Linked DNA regions of Homo sapiens. The protein of the gene in region 2 purifies or fractionates together with the protein of the main gene of each other region. This does not show direct contact. Each region holds a gene or a part of one and is shown on either strand. Other genes may lie near its edges.

Evidence for each region.
Region 1: the proteins of ZCCHC17 (region 2) and DIPK2A purify together in Homo sapiens (co-immunoprecipitation; one study listed by IntAct). This does not show direct contact.
Region 3: the proteins of ZCCHC17 (region 2) and CST7 purify together in Homo sapiens (affinity purification with mass spectrometry; one large-scale study listed by BioGRID and IntAct). This does not show direct contact.
Region 4: the proteins of ZCCHC17 (region 2) and NKAP purify together in Homo sapiens (affinity purification with mass spectrometry; one large-scale study listed by BioGRID and IntAct). This does not show direct contact.
Region 5: the proteins of ZCCHC17 (region 2) and RANGAP1 purify together in Homo sapiens (affinity purification with mass spectrometry; one large-scale study listed by BioGRID and IntAct). This does not show direct contact.
Region 6: the proteins of ZCCHC17 (region 2) and ITPRID2 purify together in Homo sapiens (affinity purification with mass spectrometry; 2 studies listed by BioGRID and IntAct, with this or other methods). This does not show direct contact.
Region 7: the proteins of ZCCHC17 (region 2) and BPIFB1 purify together in Homo sapiens (affinity purification with mass spectrometry; 2 studies listed by BioGRID and IntAct, with this or other methods). This does not show direct contact.

What each region holds. Positions count from the first base shown.
Region 1 is NC_000003.12:143,981,331-143,985,415, reverse strand, and holds part of DIPK2A (divergent protein kinase domain 2A isoform a precursor), read right to left. Parts: intron 1-4,085. UniProt on the Homo sapiens protein: May play a role in cardiomyocyte proliferation through paracrine signaling and activation of the PPI3K-AKT-CDK7 signaling cascade.
Region 2 is NC_000001.11:31,359,187-31,363,271, reverse strand, and holds part of ZCCHC17 (zinc finger CCHC domain-containing protein 17), read right to left. Parts: intron 3,685-4,085; exon of another isoform or gene 2,475-3,684; coding exon of another isoform or gene 2,442-2,474; intron 1-2,441.
Region 3 is NC_000020.11:24,947,719-24,952,518, reverse strand, and holds the start of CST7 (cystatin-F precursor), read right to left. Parts: upstream 3,251-4,800; 5' UTR 3,014-3,250; coding exon 2,944-3,013; intron 1-2,943. UniProt on the Homo sapiens protein: Inhibits papain and cathepsin L but with affinities lower than other cystatins. May play a role in immune regulation through inhibition of a unique target in the hematopoietic system.
Region 4 is NC_000023.11:119,929,776-119,933,860, forward strand, and holds part of NKAP (NF-kappa-B-activating protein), read right to left. Parts: intron 2,442-4,085; coding exon 2,332-2,441; intron 2,237-2,331; coding exon 2,161-2,236; intron 391-2,160; coding exon 241-390; intron 1-240. UniProt on the Homo sapiens protein: Acts as a transcriptional repressor. Plays a role as a transcriptional corepressor of the Notch-mediated signaling required for T-cell development. Also involved in the TNF and IL-1 induced NF-kappa-B activation.
Region 5 is NC_000022.11:41,258,506-41,262,590, forward strand, and holds part of RANGAP1 (ran GTPase-activating protein 1), read right to left. Parts: intron 3,076-4,085; coding exon 2,941-3,075; intron 1-2,940. UniProt on the Homo sapiens protein: GTPase activator for RAN. Converts cytoplasmic GTP-bound RAN to GDP-bound RAN, which is essential for RAN-mediated nuclear import and export. Mediates dissociation of cargo from nuclear export complexes containing XPO1, RAN and RANBP2 after nuclear export.
Region 6 is NC_000002.12:181,925,645-181,929,729, reverse strand, and holds part of ITPRID2 (protein ITPRID2), read right to left. Parts: intron 1,570-4,085; coding exon 1,465-1,569; 3' UTR 1,452-1,464; intron 170-1,451; coding exon of another isoform or gene 74-169; 3' UTR 1-73.
Region 7 is NC_000020.11:33,281,645-33,286,495, forward strand, and holds the start of BPIFB1 (BPI fold-containing family B member 1 precursor), read left to right. Parts: upstream 1-1,569; 5' UTR 1,570-1,610; intron 1,611-4,388; 5' UTR 4,389-4,429; coding exon 4,430-4,544; intron 4,545-4,851. UniProt on the Homo sapiens protein: May play a role in innate immunity in mouth, nose and lungs. Binds bacterial lipopolysaccharide (LPS) and modulates the cellular responses to LPS.

The DNA.
Region 1 (4,085 bases), on a different chromosome or scaffold from region 2:
ATTAGAGATTAACTTCATTTTTTCCTAACTCATACCAGTACTATGGACCTGAAAAAAATTTAAATAGAGAACTTTACATTATAAAGCTAAAATAGGATGACAAGTCTTGCTTATCAAAATCTAAGAACCAAAATGATCAATAAGAGGGAAGACACTGTCTTTATTACCAAATCTAAAAGTATTTATGCTTTCCCTTATCTTCTTCACTTGTGTAAATGTAATCAACCAATCCTTTTATTTAAACTGATAGCACTGCAGCCTATTAACCAGCAGTTATTTACCAGGCAACAGGCACTGTGTTACGGTGGCAATTAAGGGTGAACCAAACAGTCTCCATTTAGCCATGGGCTTTTATTTTAGAAGAGCATGCAGTCACCAAACAAATAATTATGAATATGAAAAGTGTTAGTTACTAAGCAGTGGTGCAGGTCCCAGGGGATCATTTAGTAGGGGCCTTTCCTAGTCAGGAAGCAGATGGGGTGGAATTCAGGGAAAGATTCTTGAGAGATGTCTTTTACCCTACATCCAAAGGTTGGGAAGGGACAAACTGATATCCTATTAATGCAACCTCCACTCTGAGCACATCTGGTCCAAGTTCATCTTGTTTCCCTTTCCCAGCCATATTTTCTGTTCTCCTTGGCCTAGCCTCAAAATTACTCTTATCTTAGCAAGGTTTTCTAATGGATTTTAAAACTACTGGCAGGATTATCATCCTAAATCAAAAAAAAACGTGTTCCATGACCATGAACACTCATTTTCACCTTAAGTAAAATAACAGGCTTTATCTAAGATACCTTCCACTGCTAAAATATGTAACTAGAAAATGAACATTAGAGAAAAAAAGGAATCAATAAATGTGTGTGTTCTGACTGCTCCACCAACTAGCCATCCCCAGGGAACAGGGAGGCCTCTCCTCAGGCCTCCCTGTTCCCTGAGACACAACAATACTGAAATTAAGCCTATTAATCCTACTATGGCCTCTAAGTGTGCAAATGAAAACAGTTACAGGTATCTCATTTGAAATCAAAAGCTAGAAACAATAGGTAGGCATAGTGAGGAAGGCACATCTAAAACCGAGATAGGCAGAAAGCTAGGCTTCTTAACCCAAACAGCCAAGCTGTGAATGCAAGGGAAATATTATCAAAAGAAATCAGAAGTGCTACGCCAGTGAACACACAAATGTTAAGAAAGCAAAACAGCCTTACTGCTAATAGGGAGAATGTTTTAGTGATCTGGATAAAAGATCAAATCAGTCACAACATTCCCTTAAGCCAATACCCAATCCAGAACAAGAACCCAACTCTCCTCAATTCTATGAAGGCTCAGAGTTCAGAAGAAAAGTTTGAAGCTAGCAGAGGCTGGTTAATGCAGTTTAAGGAATGAATTCATCACCGTAAGATAAAAGCGCAAGGAGAAGCAGCAAGTGCTGATACAGAAACCATAGCAAATTATCCAGAAGATCTAGCTAAGATAATTAATGGAAGTGACTAATCAACAGATTTTCAATGTAGATGAAACAGCCTTCCCAATACAAAATGTAGATGAAACAGCCTTCCCAATACAAAATGTAGATGAAACAGCCTTCCCAATACAAAACAGTTTGTATTGCTAGTGGTCTGGTTTTTCTAATCTTTTCAAAAAACCAGCTCCTGGATTCATTGATTTTTTTAAGGGTTTTTCGTGTCTCTATCTCCTTCAGTTCTGCTCTGATTTTAGTTATTTCTTGTCTTCTGCTAGCTTTAGAATTTGTTTGTTGTTGCTTCTCCAGTTCTTTTAATTGTGATGTTAGGATGTCGATTTTACACCTTTCTCGTTTTCTCCTGTGGGCATTTAATGCTATAGATTTTCCTCTAAACACAGCTTTAGCTGTGTCCCATAGATTCTGATATGTTGTGTCTTTGTTCTCATTGGTTTCAAATAACTTATTTACTTCTGCCTTAATTTTATCATTTACCCAGTAGTCATTCTGGAGCAGGCTGTTCAGTTTCCATGTAGTTGTGCAATTTTGAGTGAGTTTCTTAATTCTGAATTCTAATTTGACTGCAATTAGAATTGTGGTCTGAGAGACTGTTATGATTTTCTTTTGCATTTGCTGAGGAGTGTTTTACTATTTTAGAATAAGTGCAATATGATGCTGAGAAGAATGTGTATTCTGTTGATTTGGGGTGGAGAGTTCTGTAGATGTCTATTAGGTCCACTTGGTCCAGAGCTGAGTTCAAGTCCTGAATATCTTTGCTAATTTTCTGTCTCGTTTGTCTAATATTGACAATGGGGTGTTAAAGTCTCCCACTATTATTGTGTGGGAGTCTAAGTCTCTTTGTAGGTCTCTAAGAACTTACTTTATGAAACTGGGTGTTCCTGATCCTGGGAGCATGTATATATAGTTAGCTCTTCTTGTTGCATTGATCCGTTTACCATTATGTAATGCCCTTGTCTTTTATGATCTTTGTTGGTTTAAAGTCTGTTTTATCAGAGACTAGGATTGCAACCCCTTTTGTTTTTTTTGTGTTTTTTTTGCTTTCCATTTGCTTGGTAAATGTTTCATGTGTGTCTTTGCATGTGAGATGGGTCTCCTGAATACAGCACACTGGTGGGTTCTAACTATCCAATTTGCCAGTCTGTGTCTTTTAATTGGGACATTTAGCCAATTTACATTTAAGGTTAATATTGTTATGTGTGAATTTGATCCTGTCATTATGATGCTAGCTGGTTATTTTGCTCATTAGTTGATGCTGTTTCTTCATAGTGTCAATCATCTTTACAATTGGTATGTTTTTGCAATGGCTTGTACTGTTTTTTCCTTTCCATATTCAGGGCTTCCTTCAGGAGGTCTTGTAAGGCAGGCCTGGTGGTGACAAAATCTCTCAGCATTTGCTTGTCTGGAAAGGATTTTATTTCTCCTTCGCTTATGAAGCTTAATTTGGCTGGATATGAAATTCTAGGTTGAAAATTCTTTCCTTTAAGAATGTTGAATATTGGTCCCCACTCTCTTCTGGCTTACAGGGTTTCTGCAGAGAGATCTGCTGTTAGTCTGATGGGCTTTCTCTATTTAAAAATTTTAAGTAACAATTCCAGACATTCATCAAAAGATATGCTTATCTTCATGCACCTCCTAAACACCTACTAAAACGGCATCTACAAATAATGAACCCCCTTCCAAATAGAGTGAAGAACCACTAAATTAGAGAAACATCTTTACTGACCTCTAGTAATTTCTAATTCATAATGAAATATATAGACTAGTCACTAAACTCTTAAAAGCACTGATGCTATAAGAAACGTAGAGAGCATCCACAAGCACTAAAAATGCAAGAAACTTAAAAATTGGAAACGTGTACACACAAAAACACAGTATTTTAACTTGTTTTTTATTACTGATAAGCACAAAACAAATTCCAAATGCTGAAATAACCTAATAATCTACCTAGATCAAAATCAAATATTTTATGTGATCAATAAAGGAAATGTAAAATCCAAGAAATTTAGAGTTTAACTGTACCTCAATTGTAAATCCAGTTCAATCTTATTAGTACAGTGTTAAACGATTTACCTAAAGTCACACAGGTAGTAAGAAGCAAATTTAGGCCAAGCTATAATTATCTTTACAACAGTCAAAATGAATTCAAAAGATAGATTAACACAACCTCCCTCAAGCCAATATCCTTTTGTTGAAGTTAAACTTTATTAGTTTGGGGTGGTTTTTTTGGGTTTATTTTTTGTTTTGTTTTTGTTTCTGTTTTTGTTTTTGCTTATTTATCATCTGTTTAAGAATTTTTCAGATTTTATAAAGGTAACGGTTTATATATTACATAAGAGCATTCCAGAAGCCAACATTATGCTGGAAAAATAATGTTAAGATTGATTATTTAACCTAAGTGATCTCCACCCAGGCTGAGACCTAAAGGATGAGTTTAATATTAAGCAGACTGGAGATGGGGCAGTTCAGGCACATGAAAAGCCTGAAAGTATCTTCTCAGAAATGAATAAAAGACCAAAGCAGCTGCAGTGAAATGAATGGGGAAATGACTTGCGGTAAGGGAATCTGGAGAGTGAAGCAAGGACCAGATCATGTTGGGACTTATAGA
Region 2 (4,085 bases):
GCGGAGCTTGCAGTGAGCTAAGATTGTGCCACTGCACTCCAGCCTTGGCGACAGAGCGAGACTCCGTCTCAAAAAAAAAAAAAAAAAAAGTATAAGACATTGCAAACAATAAAGTAAATCTTTAAGTGCCAACAAGAAAAAAATAGCTAAAACATGTTAAGTAAAAGAACCAAGACATAATATGTATTGTAGGTTCCAGTGCGTATAACATATACATGTGTATTTATATATATATGCACATGATATAAACTGTGTATGTTACACATACTTGTGTATATTTAGTATACACAGAGAACACTGAAAAGGATACATCAAACTGGTAATAAGTGTTACACATTGGGAATGAACTGAATGGGGGAAAGGATATGGGTCTTTCACTTTTTCCTTCAAATACTTCTGTCTAATTTGATTTTTTTTAAACAAGTATCTTATTACTTTCATTTTTTAAAGTGCAGGACATTAAAGCTGAAAGGCGCCCCTAAAGACTAGCCAGTCTATCTAGAAACAGTGACTCACATATCCAAGGTCAAAGAATAGGAGTAAAAGATTTAGAACTCCTGACTGCTATTCTGGTTTCTATTAGATCCTGGTGCCAGGGGAAATAACTGCCATCAAATAATAAGCCTGTACTTGCTACCCTTGAATATTCATCATCTCTAACTTTACAGCCACCTCACAAGATTATACTCATAAAGAAAAGAGCTGAGAAAGAACATTCCCAAAACTATACCCACCACATCATGCTACCAAAGTAACAGTACAAACCCATACAAAAGACGAGAGGCAGATTCCCAGGTGTCTAATGGGGCAGTATGAGCAGATTTTAAGCACGGCATAAATCTCTTCTTTGAATTTCAAATACCTATATTGCCTCTGTAAGGTTTCTAAGAAGAGGGAGAAAGTATGGGAGGAGAAAGAGAGCAGAAAAGGATGCCAGCTTCCAACCAGCAGCCTCAGAGCTATAAATCTAGCTGAATGATACACCAGGTCTTAGAAGCTGGCTGTGAAAAATGGTGGAAAGAACACTGAAGCAGGTGTTAGATAGACCTGGACCTGAGTTCTGGCTCTGCCATTTACTATTCTGCATCCGTGGGCAAGTCATCTGAACTCACTGAGGCCTGTTCCCTTCAAATGTAAACTGGAGATAAGAATAACATCTACTGGCTGGGCGCGGTGGCTCATGCCTGTAATCCCAGCACTCTGGGAGGCCAAGGCAGGTGGATCATGAGGTCAGGAGATCGAGACCATCCTGGCCAACATGGTGAAACCCTGTCTCTACTAAAAATACAAAAATTGGCCGGGTGTGGTTACGCGGGCCTGTAGTCCCAGCTACTCAGGAAGCTGAGGTGGGAGGATCGCTTGAGCCCAAGAGCTGGAAGTTGCAGTGAGCCATAATCCTGCCACTGCACTCCAGGCTGGGCAACTGAGCAAGACCCTGTCTCAAAATAAATAAATAAATAAATAAATAAATAAATAAATAAATAATCTCCCCCTCTCCCCAAAAAAAACACCTATGGTGACAAGTTAATGAGATAGTATCTAAGGCTTGGACAAGTTGAAAGCCACTTGTCCCAGATCGCATAGGCGCAGTTGGGATCTTCATGTAGATCATATGAATGGAAATCTCCTGAGTTTTCCTATGTAGCACATGGCCCCTCTTTCTGTATGGTAACAGGAGGCCTCATGGTATGGTCATTAGAACAACAAATTTTGGAATAAGATAGAATTAAGTTCAAATTCTAGCTCTGCAACTTAACTCACTATGTGACTTAGAACAAGGGATTTAACTTTTTTGAACCTCAGTTTTCTTTTCAGTAAACTGGAAATAATAAGTACCTATTTCAAAGGATGCTATGAGGTTTAAACAAGATAAGCACTAACTATAGTGCCTGACACATTATAGGCACTTAGTGGGAGCTATATGTATTTTTCTCTCATTAACTCCCAGGATGTTCTGACAGCCTGGCCAAGCATCTACAGGAGACAAGTCAAAGTTTTAAGAGAAGATGAAATAACAATTCTTCCTTGGCATCTCCAATGGAGTAGAGAGAAGGCAACAAAGCTTCTCAGACCCACATTACCGAGCTATAACAACCATGGCTGGGAGGAGCTGAGAGTTGGCAAATCAATAGTTTAGCTATGTTGCTGAACCTTCCTGGATGGCAAGACCATGGAAGTCCATCACAAGATATTATGGGGTCAGGAGCCTCACTGGGTTCTGCCCCTTATATAGGTGAATATCCTGGGAAAGTAAAAATGAAAATACAGAGTCTGGCACCAGTTCCCTGCAAGCCTGGTCCAGCCTGGATAAAGAAGTGAGGAGAGTAATAATACTGCCTTACACCTAAACAGTGCTTTAGTTTATCAAGCTTTTTGCATCCTTATCTTACAATAATAGTCTGTAGAGTCAAACTTCATGAGTTATTATTCCCATTTTACAGATGGAAAAACTGCAACTCAGAAATGTAAAGTGAGTCGACCAAGGCTAAAGCGGCAAAACCACTATACTTTATAACACAGAGTTTGGCACTATTTCCACTTTGTTCTCTCTCAAAGATGAAGGCTCAGGAGGAGGGAAGATAAAAACAAATCACTGGAGAGTCCTGGCATGCTGGAACATGGACTCTAGCTAGCAAGAAGGGCTCAAGGAGGTGGCCTTCTCCTAGACCTCAACTTTGATGCAAAAGCTGTTTTGCAGCCTGAACAAAGACAATCCAATCCTCCAGCAAATGGCGTCATTTTCCCTACGTGTCTAGCCTTGAGCTACAGAACAAAAGAACAATCACATCCGAAGTTGTAGTTCGCCTGGTTGCGGTGGCTCACGCCTGTGATCCCAGCACTTTGGGAGGCCAAGGTGGGTGGATCACCTGAGGTCAGGAGGTCGAGACTAGCCTGACCAACATGAAGAAACCCCATCTCTACTAAAAATACAAAATTAGCTGGGCGTGGTGGCACATGCCTGTAATCCCAGCTACTCGGGAGGCTGAGGCAGGAGAATCGCTTGAGCGTGGGAGGCGGAGGTTTTGGTGAGCCAAGATCGCGCCACTGCACTCCAGCCTGGGCAACAAGAGCGAAACTCTGTCTCAAAACAAAACAAAACAAAACACGCACACACAAAAACAAAATTAGCCGGGCGTGGTGGCACATGCCTGTAATCCCAGCTACTCGGGAGGCTGAGGCAGGAGAATTGCTTGAACCCGGAGGCAGAGGTTGGGGTCAGCCAAGATTGTGCCATTGCACTCCAGCCTGGGCAACAAGATGGAAACTCCGTCTCAAAAAAAAAAAAAAGGTTGTAGTTCAAAAGCAAAGTTGGGAGTTGGGGTGGGGGAAGACTGAGAGCCAGAAGATGAACCAAGCTTCTGCTCTCTCAACTTCATTCAAGTGAGAAGGGAAACAGAAGATAATGGGTTAAAAAAAAATGACATGGATTCAAGTATCAGATGGAAATAGAAAATTAAACATAAAACAGTTTTTAAATGGCATAGGAGTGTGAGCCCATGGCGCAGGTCAAGGGGGCACTGGAAGGAAGCCACTGGTCAAACATCTCAAAGACTGCTCTCTAGGAAAAGCACATATCCCTTGTTAGAGCAGCTAGTCTACCCATTTTCACTATAGTTCTGAAACAGGATAGCAGCAGCCCAGTGTGACAGAAAAACAAAAATAAAAGCAAAAACTGAAAAAAGAGAATATAGCAGTGAACATTTATTGAGTACTTAATTTTCTATTTTATTTATTTACTTATTTTTAGGATGGAGTCTTGCTTTGTCACTCAGGCTGGAGTGCAGTGGTGTGATCTCGGCTCACTGGAGCATCTGGCTCCTGGGTTCAGGCAATTCTCCTTGAATCGCTTGTAGTCCCAAGTAGCTGGGACTACAGGCGCATGCCACCACACCCAGCTAAGTTTTGTATTTTTTTTTAACTAGAGTCGGGGTTTCACCATATTAGCCAGGCTGGTCTCAAACTCCTGACCTCAAGTGATCCACCTGCCTCATCCTCCCAAAGTGCTGGGATTACAGGCATGAGCCACCACACCCAGCCAGTACTTAATTTTCTAAAGGCAGGTGGATCTCTTGAGCCTAGGAGTT
Region 3 (4,800 bases), on a different chromosome or scaffold from region 2:
CCATCAAAATTCAGAGAGCCTGGGTCCTTGGGGCCACACCTGCCCGCTGTGCTCTTGGGTCTCTGCCTGATGGCTAATGGCGGAGTCTATCTTTTGAGGGCACACACATGCCCCTGGCACAGACAGGACACTGAGCTCTACCAGATCAGTCCCGACCTTAACCCACTGGGACACACCCGGAGTTTGAATTCCAGCTCTGCTTCTCACTGGCTGTATGATCTCAGGCAAGCTGCCTAACCTCTCTGAGCCTCCGTGTCCTCACCTGTAAAATGAGGATGCTGACGACAGTGAGAATATATGAGGCAACATACACGAAGCACTTGTCAATAAATGATGTGCAAAACTGTAATCATTATCAATATATCAAAATGCACATGGCCACAGCAGGGGTCTCAGGGCAAATGAATGCCCCCATTGGGAAAAACAAATCTTGCCACGTAGACGGTGGCTCAGCCTGCGGCAGCTCCCAGTGCTCCCCAGGAGGCAGGAGGTCCCCGGGCTGCAAGTGGTCTCTCTGCTACTGGGAAGTAAGGACTGACATCACCTTGCAGAGGGAAGCTGAAATGGCTCCCTGACCCCAGGGCCCCTGTCCAGGCAGATGGGCCGTTGCAGCTAGAGTGGAGGGGGCAGAGGATGACATGGCACCTGGCAGAGCTTCCCAGAAGAGATGCCCATCAGATTGAGAAAGAAACAGCCCTTTTCAAAAGGGTGGCGGAAGCCAGTGTGGCAATTTCCTAGGTTCTGAAAGCCTCAGGGAGGAGAGGTGCCCTGAGGGGCTCAGCGCTATGGTCTGTGCAGTTCAGTGCATGGGTGTGGAGAGAGGCCAGATGCTCAGACGGCACCACCCTTGGGGTCCCTGTTGCTTCCCCGCCCCCTACCCCCCTCAGTCATGAGGAAGGCTCTGTAATTTATTCTCAGAGGAGGCAGCGGAGGGGCTGTAGGAGTTGTGGAGTGGGGGCAGGACGCATGCTTGTGTCTGGGGCCCAGGTTCCCATCTCTTTTTTGCTGCTAGACTGGGGGCCTCCCAGCACCCTCCCTATACAGCCGAAGACTGAAGGCCCTTGCTGGAAGCACCAGAAATGATCACAGCGCCTGGGCAGGGTGCTGGGGGCTGTCACCAGCACAGTGGCAGAAGGGCCTGCACTAGACAGAGCAGGGGGCTGAGGCTGGCGGAGAGCACCCCATGCCCCATGTGCCTCCATGCCTGTGCCTTCCCCGAGCCACCTCTGTTCAGCCTCCCCAGGGCCGGAGACGGGGTGCAGTTATCTTCCCATTTCATGGATGGTAGGACTGAGGCTGAGGGCCCGCTCTGTGTGTGTGAACGTGGGCTCTGGAGCTTCTCTCTGGGGTTTGGTGGCTGACAGCAGGTCTGCTGAGAATGGAGGGAAAGGCTTGGTGCAGCATTACATACCAGCGAGGGGCCGGGAACACCACCCAGGAAAATGACGTTGCCAGCTGCCCAGCACATCGGCTCCCACGCCACCCTGTTATAGTCCCTAGCCTGCTCCGTGAGATGAGCAGAGCTCTGAAACCCCTCAGCAGTCAGTAGGTTTAATTAGATCCCAGGACACGCTAGGACAGCTGGCTCCATGTCCCCTCCAGGAGAGCCTTTTCTGAGGTGTGAGAACGAGCCACTTCTCTGGAGTGAACTTGCCTCTCTTCCCTGCTTCCCCCTTGGACCTTGGAGACACGAAGGGGCAGGGCACAGAATGGCAGCAGGCAGGCAGCACTGCATCAGGACAGGGCCAGGAGGAGAGGCCCCTGTGAGGCTGGGAAGCAGGTGGAGGGCTCCTTGCGTGAGCTAAGAAGGCTCCCAAGCTGGGAGGCAGGGCCGGGTATGCTGTCCCCAGCCTTCTGCCAGCCATGGGTCAGCTCCATGTTCGCTGAGCACTACCCAGAGCTGGTGGCGGTGGCATGTTCCCATCAGTGAGAGCAGAAGCTGCCCCCGGCCCCTCCTCCAGCCTGCCGTGTCCCCTTGGCTGCTCAGTCGCAGCGTCCGCCCTAGGCCAGGCCTGGGAGCTCGACACAGTGTCCCCCAGCATCACTGAGTCCTCAGTATCCTGACTCACCAGGAGGAGGTGAGAACCCTCCAAGAACCCCTTGGGTGCTCTGGAGCCATCCTCTTGTCAGTGGTCCTGCTGCACAGCCCCCACCTGGGCCCCTTTGGCCAGGCTCCAGCCCCCTTCTGTCCCTGTCTGCTGGGTGGGGGTCATATGACTTGAGCGGGTCACCTCAGCCCTCTGGTGCCAGCTTCCTGGTTGGTTAAATGAGGTGGGGGCCTCCCAAGTCCCCATCAGTATCCTGGTCTGATTCCTGTGCCAGGGAGGCCATGGCCCAGTTCCCTTTGGGGGAGAGCAGGTTGTCCCTGGCTGTGTGACTTGGGCAAATCACCTAGCCTGGCTGTGTCTCAGTTTCCCAGTGCACAGGCAGTGGCTCTTTCCTCCCTGTCCCCCCTCCCCCTGAGTGCTGACCCTCAGGGAGTGGATTTCAGGAAGGGTGAAAGAGTCTGATCGTTAGGGTCCCTGGAGCCAAGTCACAGGACAACAGCCAGCAGGAAGGAATGACAAGCCATCAGATAGAAGCGGCTAACCACAGGCATGTGGCTGCCCTGTCGCCTCCGTCCCGCAGAGGAGCTGCGGGAGACCTGCCTTACTTAGACCTTTCTCAGACCTCTGTGAAGAGCCAGAGAATAGAAGATGCTTCCCTTGCCCCTAGCCTTCTGGGGCAGCCCCCAAACCCTTCATCCCTGTAGCCTGCTACCCCCAAAGGTAGCTGCAGCCAGATGGAGCCCCTTGCCCCTCTCACCACTCCCAGCACCTCTCACCACCGCATGGTCCTGTGGGGGCTCCAAGCTAGGAAAGTGCCCTGGGGAAGACCCAAGGCACCAGTGGCCAATCTCAGGGAGAGACCCCCGGGGAGCGGACAGGGGAGAACGCCACTTACCTGGGGAAGGGCCCCCAGTGGTGCTCAAGACCAGGCAGCAGAAGGCCAGCAGAGTTCCAGCCGCTCGCATGGCTGCCCGGGTAGGGACAGTGCGGGGCAGTTGGGGGTGGCCGTGCAGTGCCTTCTCAGGCAGCATGGGGCAGTTGGAGGCAGTGGTTGGTGCCCGTGCCGAGCCTTCTTGGGTAGATGGCGCAGGGCAGGTGGGGGCAGTGGTCTGTGCCCGTGCCAATCCTTCTCAGGCAGCACGGGCCAGTGCCGGGCAATGGTTTGTGCCTGTGCTGAGCCTTCTTGGGCAGCATGGAACAGTGGGCTGTCCCAGCCCAGGGGCAGGTGCCAGGGCCACAGCATGGAACCCCACCCTGCAAACCACTGTGGGATGGGGCAGGGGCGGGGCTAGGGGGCTGCCTGCGTGGTGCTGGGGAGGGGAGTGTTTTGCTGCTGAATCATTTTGGCCAGAAGCTCTTCACCTTCAGATCTATCAGCCACAAAGCAACCGCTTCCTTTATAAAAGTTTCCGAGCAGCCGTCATTTGCTGGGGGAGGAGGAAGAGACATGAGACCCATGAGCAAATCCTGATGCAATGTTCTACCCCTGAGCCACACACGAAAGAGATGTTGCATGAAAAACATTAGCAGGAATTTTCAAAAGCAAAATCACTTGATTTTCCTTTTTCTTTTAATTACTTAAGTTCTGGGGTACATGTGCAGAACATGCAGGTTTGTTACATAGGTATACACGTGCCATGGTGGTTTGCTGCACCCATCAACCCATCATCTACATTAGGTATTTCTCCAAATGCTATCCCTCCCCTGGCCCCGGATCCCCAGATAGTCCTTGGTGTGTGATGTTCCCCTCCCTGTGTCCATGTGTTCTCATTGTTCAACTCCCACCTATGAATGAGAACATGCGGTGTTTGGTTTTCTGTTCTTGTGTTAGTTTGCTGAGAATGATGGTTTCCAGCTTCATCCATGTCCCTGCAAAGGACATGAACTCATCTTTTTTATGGCTGCATAGTATTCCATGGTGTATATGTGCCACATTTTCTTTATCCAGTCTACCATTGATGGGCATTTGGGTTGGTTCCAAGTCTTTGCTATTGTGACTAGTGCTGCAGTAAACATACGTGTGCATGTGTCTTTATAGTAGAATGATTTTTGAGTATATACCCAGTAATGAAATTGCTGGGTCAAATGGTATTTCTGGTTCTAGATCCTTGAGGAATCACCACACTGTCTTCCACAATGGTTGAACTAATTTACACTCCCACCAACAGTGTAAAAGCGTTCCTATTTCTCCACATCCTCTCCAGCATCTGTTGCTTCCTGACTTTTTAACGATCACCATTCTAACTGGCATGAGATGGTACCTCATTGTGGTTTTGATTTGCATTTCTCTAATGACCAGTGATGATGAGCGTTTTTTCATATGTTTCTTGGCTGCATAAATGTCTTCTTTTTAGTGTCTGTTCATATCCTTCACCCAATTTTTGATGGGGTTGTTTTTTTCTTGTCAATTGTTTAAGTTCCTTGTAGATTCTCGACATTAGCTCTTTGTCAAATGGATATATTGCAAAAATTTTCTCCCATTCTGTAGGTTGCCTGTTCACTCTGATGACAGTTTCTTTTGCTGTGTGGAAGTTCATTAGTTTAATTAGGTCCCATTTATCAATTTTGGCTTTTGTTGCTATTCCTTTTGGTGTTTTAGTCATGAAGTCTTTGCCCATGCCTATGTCCTGAATGGTACTGCCTAGGTTTTCTTCTAGGGTTTTTATGGTTTTAGGTCTTAAGTCCTTAATCCATGTTGAGTTAATTTTTGTATAAGGTGTAAGGAAGGGGTCCAGTTTCAGTTTTCTGCAAA
Region 4 (4,085 bases), on a different chromosome or scaffold from region 2:
TAGGAAGATTGATTCTTTGAAGTCAGAGATATAGCTGAGTTTGAGGCTGAGTTGCATATATACTTGGAATTGCAGAAAACCATGTTATACTAACAACACTAATATCAAACCAATATTTATACTCTACTTTTCATAAGAAACAGTCACTTAATGAAAATCAATTACCAAAATATAATTCTGGTAGTAAAAAAGAAGAAAAAGATCTAATCATGGAAACTGAGCTTAATGCCAACAACATACCTGCTACCACTCATTACATAACCTGAGCATTCAAATGATGCAATTTCTTCACTTGTCAAGCCAATTTCACCTCTTCGTGGGATACGTTTTCCAGCTTTTACATATTCAGCCATAGCTGCACCTTCACCAGGTAACAGAGCATGGCCATAGCTACAAAGTAATTCAGAATTCAGAAAAGGTCCATTAAATCATCTTAATATTAAAAGCTTATAATCTAAAGAGAGCACCAAAAATCCCCACATTTTCTCTCAAACAAGAGTAGGAATAACAGTGCTCAGCAGTAGTGTGCTAGGAAGCTCAATGTGAATTGCTTTATCCTAATTAGTGTATTAAACATTGCATTGCACTATGACCTATACAACTAACCCAGAAATGCAGAAATATTTTGAAAGAAAAGAACTGCTGTGAGTATAGATTCACAGTTTACAATTATGGATTAATTTATCCCTACAGGTATTGTCATTACTGGTTCTGGCTCCAGCTGATTCCCTTTCCCTTTTTCCCTTAAAAAATCCAAAGTATGCCAGGCACAGTGGCTCACGCCTACAATCTGAACACTTTGGGAGGCTGAGGCGGGAGGATCACCTGAGATCAGGAGCTTGAGAGCAGCCTGGCCAACATAGCGAAACCCCGTCTCTACTAAAAATACAAAATTAGCCGGGCATGGTGGTGCATGCTTGTAGTCCCAGCTACTCAGGAGGCTGAGGCAGGAGAATCACTTGAACCTGGGAGGCAGAGGTTGCAGTGAGCCGAGATCGTGTCACTGCACTCCAGCCTGGGCGACAGAGTAAGGCTTTGTCTCAAAAAACAAAACAAAACAAAACAAAAAAAAAAAACAAAGTAGGCTGGGTGCAGTGGCTGACGCCTGTAATCTCAGCATTTTTGGAGGTTGAGGCGGGCAGATCACTTGAGATCAGGAGTTCGAGACCATACTGGCCAACATGGCGAAACCCCAGCTCTACTAAAAATACAAAAATTAGTCCGGGCGTGGCGGCAGGCGCCTGTAATCCTGGCTACTTGGGAGGCTGAGGCAGGAGAATCACTTGAATCTGGGAGGTGGAGGTTGCAGTGAGCCAAGATCATGCCACTGCACTCCAGCCTGGGCAACAGAGTGAAACTCAATCACACCACTGTGCTTCAGCCTGGGAGACAGAGTGAGACTCCATCTCAAAAAAACAAAACAAAACAAACAAAAAAAAAATTCTAGACCAGGTGCGGTGGCTCACGCCTGTAATCCCAGCACTTTGGGAGGCTGAGGCAGGTGGATCATGAGGTCAGGAATTTGAGACCAGCCTGACCAACATGGTAAAACCGTATCTCTACTGAAAATACAAAAAAAAATTAGCTGAGTGTGGTGGCGCGTGCCTGTAATCCCAGTTACTCAGGAGGCTGAGGCAGGAGAATCGCTTGAACCTGGGAGGCAGAGGTTGCAGTGAGCCAAGATCACGCCACTAAACTCCAGCCTGGGCAACAGAGCGAGACTCCGTCTCACAAAAAGAAAAAAAAATTCTGCTGGTAAAAAAAGAAAAAAGAGAAAAAAAGGAATAAAAAATTCTGTGAGGATCAAAGAGAAACAGAAATCACACCTACTTGTGGAGGGGAAGTATTGGGAATCAGCATATGCATCTCCTTTTGAAAAGGGCTTCGAAGGATAGTAAGGATTTTAACAGGAAGAAACTGGCGATAGGGAAGAAAACAGAGGGCAGGGAAAAGAAGGGAAGGCATACTGGATGAAGAAATAAGCTGAACATGGCATAAAAGTTGCAAAGTGCACATTAAGCCCAGGGAATATTTAGTAGTCCAGCTCAGCTGGAACCTGGAGTAGAAATAAGGGAATAGAGTCAGATAAGCTTGGCAAGGTAAGTTAGAACCAGACTTTTTGGTAGGTACTTTAGATATTATAAACACACTGCTGCTTACTTCAAAGGTTTATCATCTTGAGAGGTAAGTGTTTTTGGAGCCTCTGGGCCAATTAAATCTGATGGTTCTTCAGCCTCTGCATGAAAGATATTAAGAAACACATTCACATTCTGACTAATTGGTTACTTTAATGTTTCATCTGTTCTGAGTTAGTCTATCAGAAGAACCTACTTGTTCGATCCTTCCAGGGATTTTCCAGAAACTCTTCTTGGGATTCTTTAGAGCTTGAATCACTGGACTCTTTTCTGCTCTTCTTAGACCTCTTTTTCTTATATTTCTTCCTATAGGGATTTTAATTTGATACAAATTCACTTAATCTTCCTATGTTAGAGGGCATCTTAATTTTTCTTTTCTTTTTAAATTTTGAACTGGTGACTATACATCTTAATTTTTCAAGGCAAAGAAAGGTGACAATAAAATGATCTGAATTCCCAGCTTATTCAAACTTACAAGATAATTTTACTTAAAAAAATCTGCTTCTAACTGAACCTGGGAAACAGAGCAAGACCCCGTCTCTATTAAAAAAAAAAAAAAGTAGCTGGGTGTGATGGCACACATCTGTAGTCTAAGCTATTCAGGAGGCTGAGGCGGGAGGATCACTTGAGCCCAGGAGTTCGAGGCTGCAATGAGCTATGATTAGCCCACTGCACTCCAGTCTGGGCAACAGAGCGAGACACTGCCTCTTAAGAATTTTTTTAAAAAGTATTCTAACTTATTTAACCAAATCATCTTTTGCTATAAAAATTATCACTAAAGGAGGCTGGGTGTAGTGTTTCACCCCTGTAATCCCAGCACATTGGAAGACTGAGGCGGGTGGGTCACTTGAGCCCAGGGGTTAGAAACTAGCCCTGGGCAACATGACGAAACCGTGTCTCTACAAAAAATACAAAAATTAGCCAGGTGTGGTGGCACACGCCTGTAGTCCCAGGTATGGGGAAAGTGGGGGCAGAGGTGGGAGGATGGCTTGATCCTGGAAGGTTGAGGTTGTAGTGAGCTGTGATCGTGCCACTGCATTCCAGCCTGGGTGACAGGGTGAGACACGGTCTCAAAAAAAAAAAAATTCACTAAAGGGAACAATGAAATACAGTTCTGATGTTGTAGAAAGACAACAGAAATAAAACAGCCTAAAAAGTCCCAACAATTTGAACATTATGAATAATTTTATGTGTAATGGATTAAAATATGTCAAATATGTTTAAATCCTTGGGTTAATAATACTTTTTAAAAATCCAATTCATTATTTGAAAAGTCATTAAAACAAAAAAAATCAAGCAATTATCCTGCTCTTACAATATAAACTATATTTCAGGGTATCTAAATAGTTGATGAGGGTAAGTTTCTCTTATAGAATCATTCTGCCTAATAAATGAAGGATAAAGCCAGGATTAGACTATCACCATTTTACAACCCCTAATGAAATAATGGATCGAGATAATGACCATCAATGGCTGTTAATATGACAAAAAGTGACAACCAGACATTATTTGCCTCCTGACAGTAAACAGCACCACTTATGAAGTATTCTTGCCCCAACTCAAATCTGAGCCTTCTCAGGCCTCTAGACCTATTAATCTATTGGAAATACAGAGGACAGAACATGCCAAAGAATACCATAAGAATACGGTCACTGCAATTTAGGGACATTATTTGGATCCTGATTGGAATAAACTACAGAAAAAACTGCTGAGAATAGAGGAATTATTATTAAATGTTTTAGGCACAATAATAGCATTCTGGTTATGGGTTTTTGTTTTTTTTTTAAATATAGAGACAGGATCTCGCTATGTTGCCCAGGCTGGTATTGAACTCCTGGGCTCAAGCGATCCTCCTGCCTGGCCTCCCAAAGTGCTGAGATTACAGATATGTGCCACTGTGCCTGGCCAGTTTTTTGTTTTGTTTTGTTTTAAAGAATGCCTATCTTTGTG
Region 5 (4,085 bases), on a different chromosome or scaffold from region 2:
CCTAGCCCACCCACCTACACAACATAACCCCTTCGACATGGCGTCCTTCTCTAGGGATGAGGAGGGTGTTCCCTGGCCCATGCAGCCCTATCACAGCCTGGCCTTTTGATACCCATTCTCTCTGCCTCCTTATTTTCTTTTTCTTTTTTCTTTTTTTTTCCTTTTTTGAGACGGAGTCTCGTTCCGTCGCCCAGGCTGGAGTGTGATGGCATGATCTTGGCTCATCGCAACCTCTGCCTCCCAGGTTCAAGTGATTCTCCTGCCTCAGCCTCCTGAGTAGCTGAGATTACAGGCGTGCGCCACCACACCCGACTAATTTTGTATTTTTAGTAGAGATGGAGGTTTCACCATGTTGGCCAGGCTGGTCTTGAACTCCTGACCTCAGGCGATCCAGCTTCCTCGGCCTCTCAAAGTGCTGGGATTACAGACGTGAGATACCACACCCAGCCATTCAGCATTTTCTTGACAGGCTAACTCATATGAGTTCTAGGGCTCTTGTTTTGGTCACCTCCTCTCCCAGGAAGGCTTCCTGGATTCCCCCAGCCACGATCCAGTGTGCGTTCCTCTGTGCTCCCGGAGCACCTGGTCCCTCCTCTATCACGGTGGTCCTCATCCTGCCTACATTCAAAGCCTATATTCCGTCTGCATCCCATCGGCCCCTGAGCTTTGGAGGAGAGGGCCATGTCCCAGTCTCCACTGTGACCCAGGACTGAGGGTTGGCCTGGCTTAACTGTGCCAAGGAATCTTCTGCTGTCTTCAGGTGCTCAGTGCAGCACAGGGCAATGGGGGGAGCGGGTGGTCCACAAATAAATACAGGAAGGCCAACCTGGGCACACTCCAGGTCAGGCCTTCTTAGTATTTTCTGTGCCATGAACCCTTCAGGCAGTCTGGTGAAGCCCCTGGGTCCCCTCCTCAAAAAATGTTTTTTTAAAATTTTAAGATAAATTACACAGAATTACAAAGGAAATCAACTCAGTTGGAACAGTTATCAAAACATTTAGGAAAAAACTCCAAACGCATGCTGTAGTGATATACAAACTTCTTGTTAATGCACCAAATAACAAGATCTAGGGGTGGGTCCACTATTACTGTAATTTTGATGTAGTGAGAAATATTTCTATATATCAGCAGTAACTATAACTTCATATGAAATACCTGTGATTTCCACTGGGGATAAAGTCACAAGATTTTCTTTTTATTTTTTTAAAAATTTTAAGCTGGGCGCAGTGGCTTATGCCTATAATCCCAGCACTTTAGGAGGCCAAGGCGAGTGGATTACCTGAGGTCAGGAGTTTGAGACCAGCCTGGCTAACATGGTGAAACCCCATCTCTACTAAAATACAAAAATTAACTGGGTGGGCATGGTGGTGCACACCTGTAGTCCCAGCTAATCGGGAGGCTGAGGTGGGAGGATCACTTGAGCCTGGGAAGCTTCAACTGCAGTGGGCTGAGATTGCACCGTTGTACTCCAGCCTGGGCAACAGAGCGAGACCCTGCCTCAATAAAATTTTTTTTTTTTTTGGGTTCAGGGACTACATGTGCTTGTTTGTTATGTGGGTAGTCACAGGCCTTTCTAATGCTGTGAGGTTTATTGTCTACATTTATAATCAAAGGTCACACTACATATTTTAGCTACATTAGTAATAAATAATAATGTTATTTTTTCCTCATCCATGTTCACAGACCCCTGAATTCTATCCACATACTGGGGGGGATTAAGAACCCCCATTCTAAGCCCACCAGAGGACACCTATGAAGGCTCAACACAACCACAGCGCACCCCCTCCTCCCAGTGCACTGAGGACAGCAGGCTGACGGCAGGGAGGGATCCAAGGATGGCAGTGAGGCCCCCACCAGCTCCAGAGGAGGCAGCAGGAGCTCCCCTGCAGCCAGGGGTGCAGGGAGACACAAGGCAGATCTCTGCGATGTTCACTTGGCACTGAAGCAGGCAAAGGGTATCTACAGACAGCCTCGATGGGCAGCCAGGACATTCCGGCCCGTATGAGCAATGCTCCTAGGATACTGTTTGCTGAAGAAAACATTTAAATTAAGAGAAGAGGGGCCGGACGTGGTGGCTCACGCCTGTAATCCCAGCACTTTGGGAGGCCCAGGCGGGCAGATCACTTGAGGTCAGGAGTTCGAGACCACCTGGCCAACATGGTAAAACCCCGTCTCTAATAAAAATACAAAAATTAGCCGGGTGTGGTGGCGGGTGCCCGTAATTCCAGCTACTCGGGAGGCTGAGGCAGAACTGCTTGAACCTGGGAGGCGGAGACTGCAGTGAGCCAAGATCACGCACTGCACTCCAGCATGGGTGACAGAATGAGACTCTGCCTCAAAAAAAACAGGAAAGAGAGGAGGGAGACAGACCCCAAAGTTTTCAGTCCTGTTAGGGGCAAGTGTAGCCTTCTGCTGGCACTCACGATCGGGGACTCAGCAATGTCCTGCGGGGATGGGGAGAGGAGAGTGGAAGAGGAGTGGGGATAAGGTCACCTGAGAGCACGTCATTTGGCACCTGAGCCCTGCGGCTGCCCCTGCCTATCTCCCTGTCTTGGAGGTCTGGTATGTTCCTTCTCTGTGCCCCACACCAGTGGCTGGGCCAGGCTACTGTCAGCACTCGCACCATCTCACTTCACCACTTCTGAGCCTGGCAGATGACACTCCTTGGTCAGAGTGGCCTGCCTGGCCTGAAGCCCCATAGGGGCTGGCTCACCAGTGGGAGCCAGTCACACACCTTTCCGGAAAGTCACACACCTTTCCAGAAATGCACGACAGGAATTCTGGCTCATTTTCGGATGGGTTAACAGGCTTGGAGAGGGCACGTGACGCCCCAGGTCTCTTGGTTGAGTGCCAGCCCTGGGATTAGCATCCAGAACTGTCAGCCTACTATGCCGAGTGCACCTCAAGGCTGCAGGGGCAGGATGGACAGAAACCACTCACCCTAAAAGCTTCTGCCAAGGCAGTGGCGCCATCATTCTCCAGACGGTTTCTGCCAGCCACAAAGACCTTCAGGGCCAGAGGCTTGCCTTGGGCACTGGATTTCCGGTGACATTCGGTCAGAGCTGCAGCCAGGATCTGTGGGGAAAGGCAAGGGGCCCTGGTCATGGGCAGGAGCCCCTTCTCCCAGCGGGGTGGCCACTGCTGCTGAACTGCTCTTCAACATCCCACGCCACCCATCGGTGCAGGTCAGGGGACGCAGGACTGCTAACAGCTCAACAGTCACACCTTAAATATGTCCAGCACTTCAGTTACACAAGGTTTTTATCTCTAATGCTGTGTCACACCAGCCTGAGAGGTTTAGCTTCACTTTCGAGACGGGGAGACCAAGCCCTACTCAGGAAAGGGAGAGACCACATGGAGTGGATGAACTTTTAGCCAGGTCCAGGGGAAGGACTTCCTAGTCAGCTCACTTCACTGTCTAAGGCCCTCTGCTAGGTGGGAAAATCATGGCTCCCATTTTCCAGCTGAAGAAACTCAGGGTAAGAGGAACGGAAACTTTCTTATGGTCAATAAACAAGTGGTGGACTCTGGACCAAAGCCCAAATCTTCCAGCTTCTCTTCCACGTTCCACAATGTCCAAGGGAGCCAGCTGCCAAGTCCACGGTCCAGACGAACCTGTCTGACACCTGCCTGTGCCTAAAAGCTGGCCAGGCACAGCAGGAGCTTGCCTGCTGGTGGTAAAAACCTAACACCCAGCTTGCCCTGTCCCTGGTGTGGTGCCAGGAAGTAGCTTCTACCCTGGTTACACCATTAGGAAAAGCACTGAAAAACGGAGACTGACCGATGGGAATCAGAGCCCATGGTAAATGCGACATAAAAGAATCACGAGCGAGTGCACCGAGAGAAGTGATATTTGCAGAACACCTGATGTTTGCAGAGCACCTGCTAGGGCCTGGGCATCCTTGGCATATTTTCTTGTTTCAACCTCAACACCAGCCTGGGAGGCAGGCAGGATTGGCCGTACTTTACAGATGAGGAAGCTGAGGCTCTGAGAGATGAGTGAATTGGCCAAGGTCACCCGGTAAGTATTTAGCAAAGCCGCACATGGCGGGTGGGTTGGCCTAACTCCTGGCATGAGACTGCAC
Region 6 (4,085 bases), on a different chromosome or scaffold from region 2:
AGTTTCTATGTACGTCTTTTTAAAATATATGGTTGAAGAAATACACATTGTACACTGTATACAGTAGCCCAGCTCAACAGCAAGTATCTTCTAAAGCACAAATAACACCTCCACCAGTGCATATCATTGATAATTCCAGTATTACACAGCTAATAGGATCCATGCCAACCTTAAAAAAGAAAAGAGAAGTCAGTTTTAAACCTCTTTCAAATACTGTTATTAAAAGCTTCTTTAAAGGAAGATGAGAATTTTATGCAAATATATATACACAGAAACATGATTATCCTGTAATCTCTATACATCTTCCTGAGAGTTAATTCTTATATCCCTGGCTTTAAAAAAAATAATTCCTATTAATTGCTTTGTGACATAATTTATTAAAATACTTTCCAATTTCCTATATCTGAAATTGTATATTATACTTTTCAAATTACATTTGTTTCTCATGTCTTATTCAATGAATATTTTTAGTTCTATTCTACTCAACTTATTCTTTCTTTTTGCATTCACCAAGAATTATTATTAATATATATTATATAAAATGAAGTTAGAGCTAAAGCAGGAGGATCGCTTGAGGCTAGGAGTTTAAGACTAGCGTGGGCAACATAGCAAGACCCCATCTCTACAAAAAAATTTTTTAATGTAATTAGAGCTACGAGATAAAATGAAAGTAATTCGTTTTACTAAGACAGACATATAAAAGAGTTTTTTGAAATAAATTATTATTAGAAATGAATCTATGGGATATGTTTCTTTAAAAGATAAAAATAATTAGGAAAGATACTTAGAAGTTGTGATTAATTCGGCCGGGCGCGGTGGCTCACGCCTGTAATCCCAGCACTTTGGGAGGCCGAGGCGGGCGGATCACGAGGTCAGGAGATCGAGACCATCCCGGCTAAAACGGTGAAACCCCGTCTCTACTAAAAAATACAAAAAATTAGCCGGGCGTAGTGGCTGGCGCCTGTAGTCCCAGCTACTTGGGAGGCTGAGGCAGGAGAATGGCGTGAACCCGGGAGGCGGAGCTTGCAGTGAGCCGAGATCCCGCCACTGCACTCCAGCCTGGGCGACAGAGCGAGACTCTGTCTCAAAAAAAAAAAAAAGGAAGTTGTGATTAATTCACAAAATCTTGTTCTTTAAAACTATACATCTGAAATACCATTATAATCAAAATAAGATTCAGGTTTGAAGGTCCAATTCCAGGATTTATTACTATAATGAAATTTCAGTAGAATGACCCAATATAAGTAATTCCTTGGAGATTTGTATTATGGGATTTGACTTACACTTCAAATAGGCTTGTGTGAAATTTTCACATTGTAAAATAACATATTACATACATTCTAAAACTCAAAATTTAACTAGAGAACCAAACCTGTATACTAACAAAACAAAGAATAAAATGCCAGTTACTATTTACATTTAGCTCAACAAAGAAACTCAGAAAAATTTACCTATAATTTCTGTTTAATGATAATCTTGCTTAGAATTAGACGCTTTACTTGAAGATACTGCTGCCAAAAGTCCACTTACAATTTCCCGTCTGATTTCCCCAACAATAGACTCTTTAATCTAGATTGGAAAAACAATAAAACAAAAATTTACCAATATGAATGGAATTCATTTTTTCCTGTTTTTGGAAAAAATACAAATAGCATTCAATTTCTTAATTTCACCTTCATGTGAATCTCCCTGCAATACAGAGAGGGAGTGGGGAATCGAGTCCATCTATCATCCAACCCAGATCAGACTCCCAAGGACTGGTCTAGAATTGTTCAGCTAACTAGATTACAAATATCACAATTCATAAGGTGAGGACATTAGAAAATGTTATTTCATAAGTTAAAAAACTTCTAGTAAATACTTTACCTCATGTCAAAAAAATAATCTGGAAGGACTTCTTAAATGTTTTTAGTATTGTCTAACTTTGTAAGGTAATCAGCAGAGACACAAGTGCTCTCATTGCTGAGAAAATCTTTTAGAGGCAAAATAGTATACAGGTATACTGCCTGTTTATGCCAACTGACAGCAAGGTATCTAAAGACATATTGTTCAACCTAACACATTTAAAATGGGAAGAAGAAATTATCATTTAGTACAATTTATTTTATAATATAAAAAACATCCTCAAAACAACCATAAACTCTAAAGAAATAACTTTTTCTTTAGTTGCATGGTATCACTGCCAGCCATCTAAGCTTTTGTTTCCAATATGCATATAGGATATGAGGATATACATCTCATTTTATTGTTGGAAAAGGCAAACAGACCTGAGGAAATGACAATTCCATCAGGATTTTCTTCTACAGGTGTCCAAACACTTACATATGCCTATCTCCACCTTTTCTCTCTAATGATACAGCATCACTTTTAAATAGCCCTTTGTGAAAGCTATAAATGTGTATTTCCTGAAATAAAGTGATAATGTGTTCCCAAATAAGCACTCAAGATACTCTCAACAAGCTTTTAAAAATTCTACATTTCCAGTTTCCTGTCAGCCAAATTGATTTATTTCCTACAATGTTCCTAAGTACATCTCAAACACATCTTAACTATAATCTTTCCAAAAATGGTCCTGTATTAGTCTATCATGCAAAATTGGTACACAATACATAGATTTATACATAGTTATTTAAAGAAACAAAACACTCCTTAGCTACCAACCATCTGTACTGGAATATATTTAAATACTATAAGCTTTTCACTTTACCTTTTATCAATATTTCTAAACTTTAAACAACATCAGAAGATTCTGAAGCACACAGCACTTCAGATTTACTTTTCAAACAAGTATGTGTTGGATACAAATATTTTAAAAACCAGAATCTCTTAGTCACAGTATATAAACAGAAATACAACATACTGAATTAGGACCACTGCAAATCTATATTCACAACAATGAGTATAGTCTTTCCAGTCCTGCTACCAATGCAATATGGCCATTTTATTATATCTCATTATTCTTCATCACTCAAAAAACAAACTAGCCAAAATGTATTCTCTTTTTTTTTTTTTTTTTTGAGATGGATTCTCACTCTGTCACCCAGGTTGGAGTGCAGCGGTACAATATCGGCTCACTGCAAGCTCCGCCTCCTGGGTTCACGCCATTCTCCTGCTTCAGCCTCCTGAGTAGCTGGGACTACAGGCACCCGCCACCACGCCCGGCTAATTTTTTGTATTTTTAGTAGAGACGGGGTTTCACCATGTTAGCCAAGATGGTCTCGATCTCCTGACCTTGTGATCCACCCGCCTTGGCCTCCCAAAGTGCTGGGATTACAGGCGTGAGCCACCGCGCCCAGTCGCCAAAATGTATTCTTGACAAACCAGGAATGTGTGCCAATCTTTTTTGGGAGTACAGGCATTATTGGAATAAAGTATAAAAGAATCCCTACCATCAAGCATGATATAATCTCAATGGACACAAAATGAATACTGTTTCATAAAATATATTTCTTATTTATTTATTTTTGTGACAGAGTCTTGCTGTGTCATCCAGAGTGGAGTGTAGGGGCGCAATCTCGGCTCACTGCAACCTCTGCCTCCCACGTTCAAGTAATTCTCCTGCCTCAGCCTCCTGCATAGCTGGGATTACCACCACACCTGGCTAATTTTTGTATTTTTAGTAGAGATGGGGTTTCACCATGTTGGCCAGGCTGGTCTCGAACTCCTGACCTCAGGTGATCCGCCCACCTCGGCCTCCCAAAGTGCTGTGATTACAGGCGTGAGCCACCACACCTCGTCGGTTTCATAAAATACTAAAGGAAAAATAATTTATTGATTCATTAATGACATAAGAACAAAAAATTTTGATAAATGAGAGACTAGTGTGGGACAAAATTCTCAGAGAATGGCAGCTTTTACATGGTATGTCACAACAAAGAAAGAACAATTTCAGATGACAGTGGAGATAGAAAACTCTGTAGCAAGACGGTCTCAAATAAGAGGGGAGTATAATGGAGCCTGACTGCCAAGACAGTTCCCTCTAGAGAGCAGAAGGGAATCAGAATAGGAAGGGTGAGGTCAGATGGAAGGTGTACTGTGAGCTCCTTCAGCGAGCAGGTCAGGTCTCATTTATCAGTGTATCTCAG
Region 7 (4,851 bases), on a different chromosome or scaffold from region 2:
GCCAAGGCCAAGAGACGCCAGCAACCTGAGGAGGGGCCACGCGGTACTGAGGGCAGGTGTGGAGTCTGGGGACCATGGGCCTGCAGAGATGCAGCCAGCTTTGCTGTCCCAGCACGTGGCAGGAAGCAGGAGCTGATGCGGCCCCAGGTCTTGGCATTGGGCCCGAGCACCGCACAGAGGGTCATTGTCCATGGGCAGTGGGCATGGCCAGCTGGGAAGCCAAGCAGGGGCATTTGCCTCTCTGGAGATGTGCCCAAGGGATCGGCAGGGTCCTCCCAAGAGCTCTCTCAAAACACCTCACCTTTAGGTATTCAGGGCTTTTGGTGTGTTTGCAAACATGGCAGGACAGCAAACGCTCTTCACCTTGTTCTTCTTGTCAAAAAGCAGGAGGAAGAGACCAGCCAGGGCCTGGCCACGTACTTTGTGACCTCAGAACACTTACTGCCCCTGACTTGTCTGCTGCAGATGGAGACAGGATTCAACAATGGCCATCCCAGCTCTAAACCACAATTCCATTCTTCTAGACAAAAACTGGGTAGCAAGGATAATTCCCCAGATGACATCAAAAGGCCATGTTGGTGTCACCACCACCTCCAGTGCTAAATTGAAGTCTCAGGGGAAGGACAGTGTGGCGGTTAAGAGGGTCCGGTCTGGACTGATGATCGGGTTCAGGTCCCAAAGCTGGAATCCCTGGTCATGTGACCTTGAGCAAGTCACTCGCCTCTCTGAGCCTCAGGTGCCCTCTGTAACATTAACGCTGCTGATGCCCACCTCTGGGTGACTGTGCAGGCTGCGTGAGCCAAGACCTGGGCCCAGGTGGTGGATGACAGCGTCCTGCTGGGCTCTGACATTTGTCCTTTAGGTTCATGGTCATCCCTCCTTATTCTTTTGGTCCACAAGTGCTCATGGAGATTCCTAAAGATGCAGACAAGGTAGAGCAGATTTTAATTGCTGCGGAATGAATGAATGAATGAAATGAAAGCCCATGCTAAGCACTGTGTAGGCATGCACTTCAACTCATGCTCTTAACAACCTATGAGGAGGAGCTACTATTATCCCCATGCTATAGATGAGGTCATTGGGGCCCAGAGAGGTGAAGTACCTTGCCCAAGGGCACACAGCAAAGCAGTGGCAAAAATAGGATTCAAATCTATTCTCCTGGGTGAATTAATTGATGGAGATGTGTATCTTTGATGTATTTAGGAATAAGGGGTGGGTAAGGCTACTCCTTCCTTTTCCCAAATTGATTATCTGGATTAAACAATTGTTGTAATCCCTCTACAAAGGCTCATCCTATTATAAGCAATAATAATATTAATGGCAACGGCCACTCACATTTATGGAGTGCTTATTCTGCTATATGCACTGTGCTTCTCTCAGCCTGGACCTTCCTTTCTCCAAACCTCAGGAAGCTGGAGTCCCAAGGCTGCCTCCGGGCGGGGCTGTGGTTCAGCAGAAGCCACAAATATTTACCTTGGAGACCTCGGCCTGGTCTGAGGCCTCTGCCTAAAGACAAAGCCTGTGCTGGGGTGTGCAGGATATAAGGTTGGACTTCCAGACCCACTGCCCGGGAGAGGAGAGGAGCGGGCCGAGGACTCCAGCGTGCCCAGGTAAAAGTAGGGAAGGGGCTGAAAGCCAAGGTTGCCAGGAAGGTTCTGAGCTAGAGATACCTGTTGGGGTCAGGTCAGGAGCACAGGGGAGGCTCGCCCTCAGGGAAGGGCCCTCGGTGAGTCAGGATCCGCTGAGGGTCAGGGCCAGGTGTAGAGAGATGCCCAGCTCCCTCGCCCAGAGGACCAAAGGGCAGTGACGAAGGGATGGGGCTGGCTGAGTGTTTTCCTGACCTCTTCCTAGTGACATAAACCCACTCTGCACATACCAGTTGCTCTGTCCCAGCTGTGCTGCGGTGGTGCTGGGACAAAAGAAGCATGAGACGCAGACTCTGTCCCTCAAAGAACTCCCAGTGCAGGACAATGTGGTGCCCAAGGAAGACCCAGGGACATGGGAGTGGAGGACAGTCAAAGAAGGGATCCTGGAAGAGGTGATGTGTTGGTTGCAAAGCCGAGTAGAAGGCGATTGGGCAAAGGAGGAGAGAAAGATATTCCACGAAGGGGAACTAGCAGAAGCAAAGGCTGGGAGAGGAGGTGCCATATGACAGGGGCGTGTGTGGTGCCTGGATCTGGGGGAGGAGAGTCTTTTCCACAGGAGGGAAACAGGGATGCTACCATCCTCGTGGGTCCCTGGGTTTCTCTGATCCAAAGAGGACTGAGCAGTGTGTACAGATAATGCAGGACAGACAGAGTCAAGGTATTTGCAAGGAAAATATGGAGTGGGGCCACAGGGGTGCCTGGATGCCGGGGTTCAGCTCTGTCTTCTGGCTTTGGCTGCAAGGTGTCTCCTTCTGACTCCAATATTAGTAATAATACCTGTCATAATTATCGTGGAAGCTACCATCTACTGAACGCTTGGCCATGCCAGGCCACAAATAGATTGTCTCATTTAATCTTCCCAAAAAGCCTATGACATAAGTACTATAATTATTCCCCATTTTATAGATGAGTAAATGGAGGCTCAGAAAGGGTAAGTCACTTGTCAAAGATCACAGAGCAAGTGGTAGAGGCAGGCCTCCAACTAGGGTTCATCTGGCTGCCAAGCCAATAATATTTTCCCCTCCACCTTCAGGCCTCCTAACACTAACCTTTTCAGCTTAGCAGGCTCAGATTTCCAATTCTTTCGGGGCTTCCAGAGGCTATGCAATTATTCAGCAGCCATTTATTAAGCACCTGGTCTATGCCAACCACTATACTGGATGCCAGGGACACAGCAGGGAGCAGGCAGACCCAGCCCTCCCTCCCAGAGCTCACAGCTTGGTCAGGGAAGCAGAGGCTGAATCATTATTGCAAGGGTCTCAGAAGAGCTCACACTGCTCCAGGGCACAGGAGACACATGTCATCCGGATGCCACATTTGTCTTTGGCAAAAAGAAATCCACATGCTGAACCAAGCGAGGGGCTCAGATCTCTGCAGCGTCTCCCCTCCCTCCAAGCAGGACAGTCCACAGGGGCAGGAGCTTCCATGGGGGGCTGGCAGACAGAGCCAGGGTGCAAGCTGGAGAGCTCAGGACTGGACTACAGATGTTGATGCCACACCCCTGTGGAGGGAGGGGACAGAGCAGCCAAGGGGCCAGAATACCCCCAAGCTCCTCTCCCTGGCATGAGCCACAGGGCCCTTTCTCTCTCTCTCTTTCTCTCTCTCTCTCTCTGCCCTTCTTTTCCTGGCTCCAAGAAGCCATTCAGTCCCTCCCCAGCCCCCTTAGTATTGCAGATTAAGCAAAGAGCTTTTTCACAACTTTGAGTCCTACCTGGCTCCTCATTTCCTTCCTGCCTCCAACCTTCATGTCTTGGGCCCCAGGACAACATTTCTCCAAGTGTGGTCCAGGTTCCCTGTCTGCAGGACAGGGGAAGCTTTATAGGGAAAGTGACAAATCTTGGCAGGGTTTTAAAGGATGAATAGGAGTTCATCAGGGAGATATGGGAGGAGAAAAGCATTCCAGGAAGCAAGGAAGAGCAAGAGCAAAGGCACGGACACAGGAGAGAACACAGTATGTTCTGAGACCTTCCAACTGCTTGGAACTTGCTAGAACAAGGGGAGAGAAAGCAGGAGGTGAGGTCAGCAGACGGTGAACCATAGAGGGTTTTAAGTGTCAGACTGAGGGGTGGGAGACACGGGAAGCAGAAGTTCTTTGTTCTGAGCATTGTTGCTGGATTTTCTGTAAGAAAATAGCTAATACAGGCTGGGCGCGGTGGCTCACGCCTGTAATCCCAGCACTTTGGGAGGCCGAGGTGGGCAGATCACGAGGTCAGGAGATCGAGACCATCCTGGCTAACACGGTGAAACCCCGTCTCTACTAAAAATACAAAAAAAAAAATTAGCCTGGCGCGGTGGTGGGTGTCTGTAGTCCCAACTACTCAGGAGGCTGAGGCAGGAGAATGGTGTGAACTCAGGAGGTGGAGCTTGCAGTGAGCCGAGATGGCACCACTGCACTCCAGCCTGGGTGACAGAGCGAGACTCTGTCTCAAAAAAAAAAAAAAAGAAAGAAAATAGCTAATACATTCCAAGTGCTTACCATGTGAAAGACACCGTGCTAAATGCTTTCCAGATATTAACTCACTTAATCCCTCAACTCTGGGAAGCTGGGGTCATTATCCCCATTTGTCTGATAAGAAAACTGAGGCACAAAGAGGTTACGTTGATTGCCTAAGGCTACACAGCTAGCCCAGGCAGTTAAACACTGCACTCAACAGCCTCTCCTGGACACCGTGCCCCAGGTCACCGGGCATCATGGGCCTGCCCTTGGCCCCTCTGCCTCAGGTCCCTCTGTGCTCACCCCAGGTCTGGCATCCTGCACTTGCTGCCCTCTGACACCTGGGAAGATGGCCGGCCCGTGGACCTTCACCCTTCTCTGTGGTTTGCTGGCAGCCACCTTGATCCAAGCCACCCTCAGTCCCACTGCAGTTCTCATCCTCGGCCCAAAAGTCATCAAAGAAAGTAAGTTTTGTCCCTCCGGAGCTGGCTGCCATAAGACAAGGGGGTAGGTGGAGCAGCTTCCCAAAGGAGGGAGAGAGTTCCTCATCACGGGGGATGTGCATGGCTGAGATCCCAGAACGTGGGTGAACATGAGTGGGAGGTTGTAAAGGTCTGGAGAGTCTGTGATCTCAAGAGTCCACGATTCCAAGAACCCCTTCTTAAATTCCACAGTTCCAAAGACCCTGAGTTTCCACAGCCTGCAGAAGGGGCATGCAGCCACTGCATGCAGTGATGCAGCTGCCTCTCCCACTGCCTTCACCTGAAATCC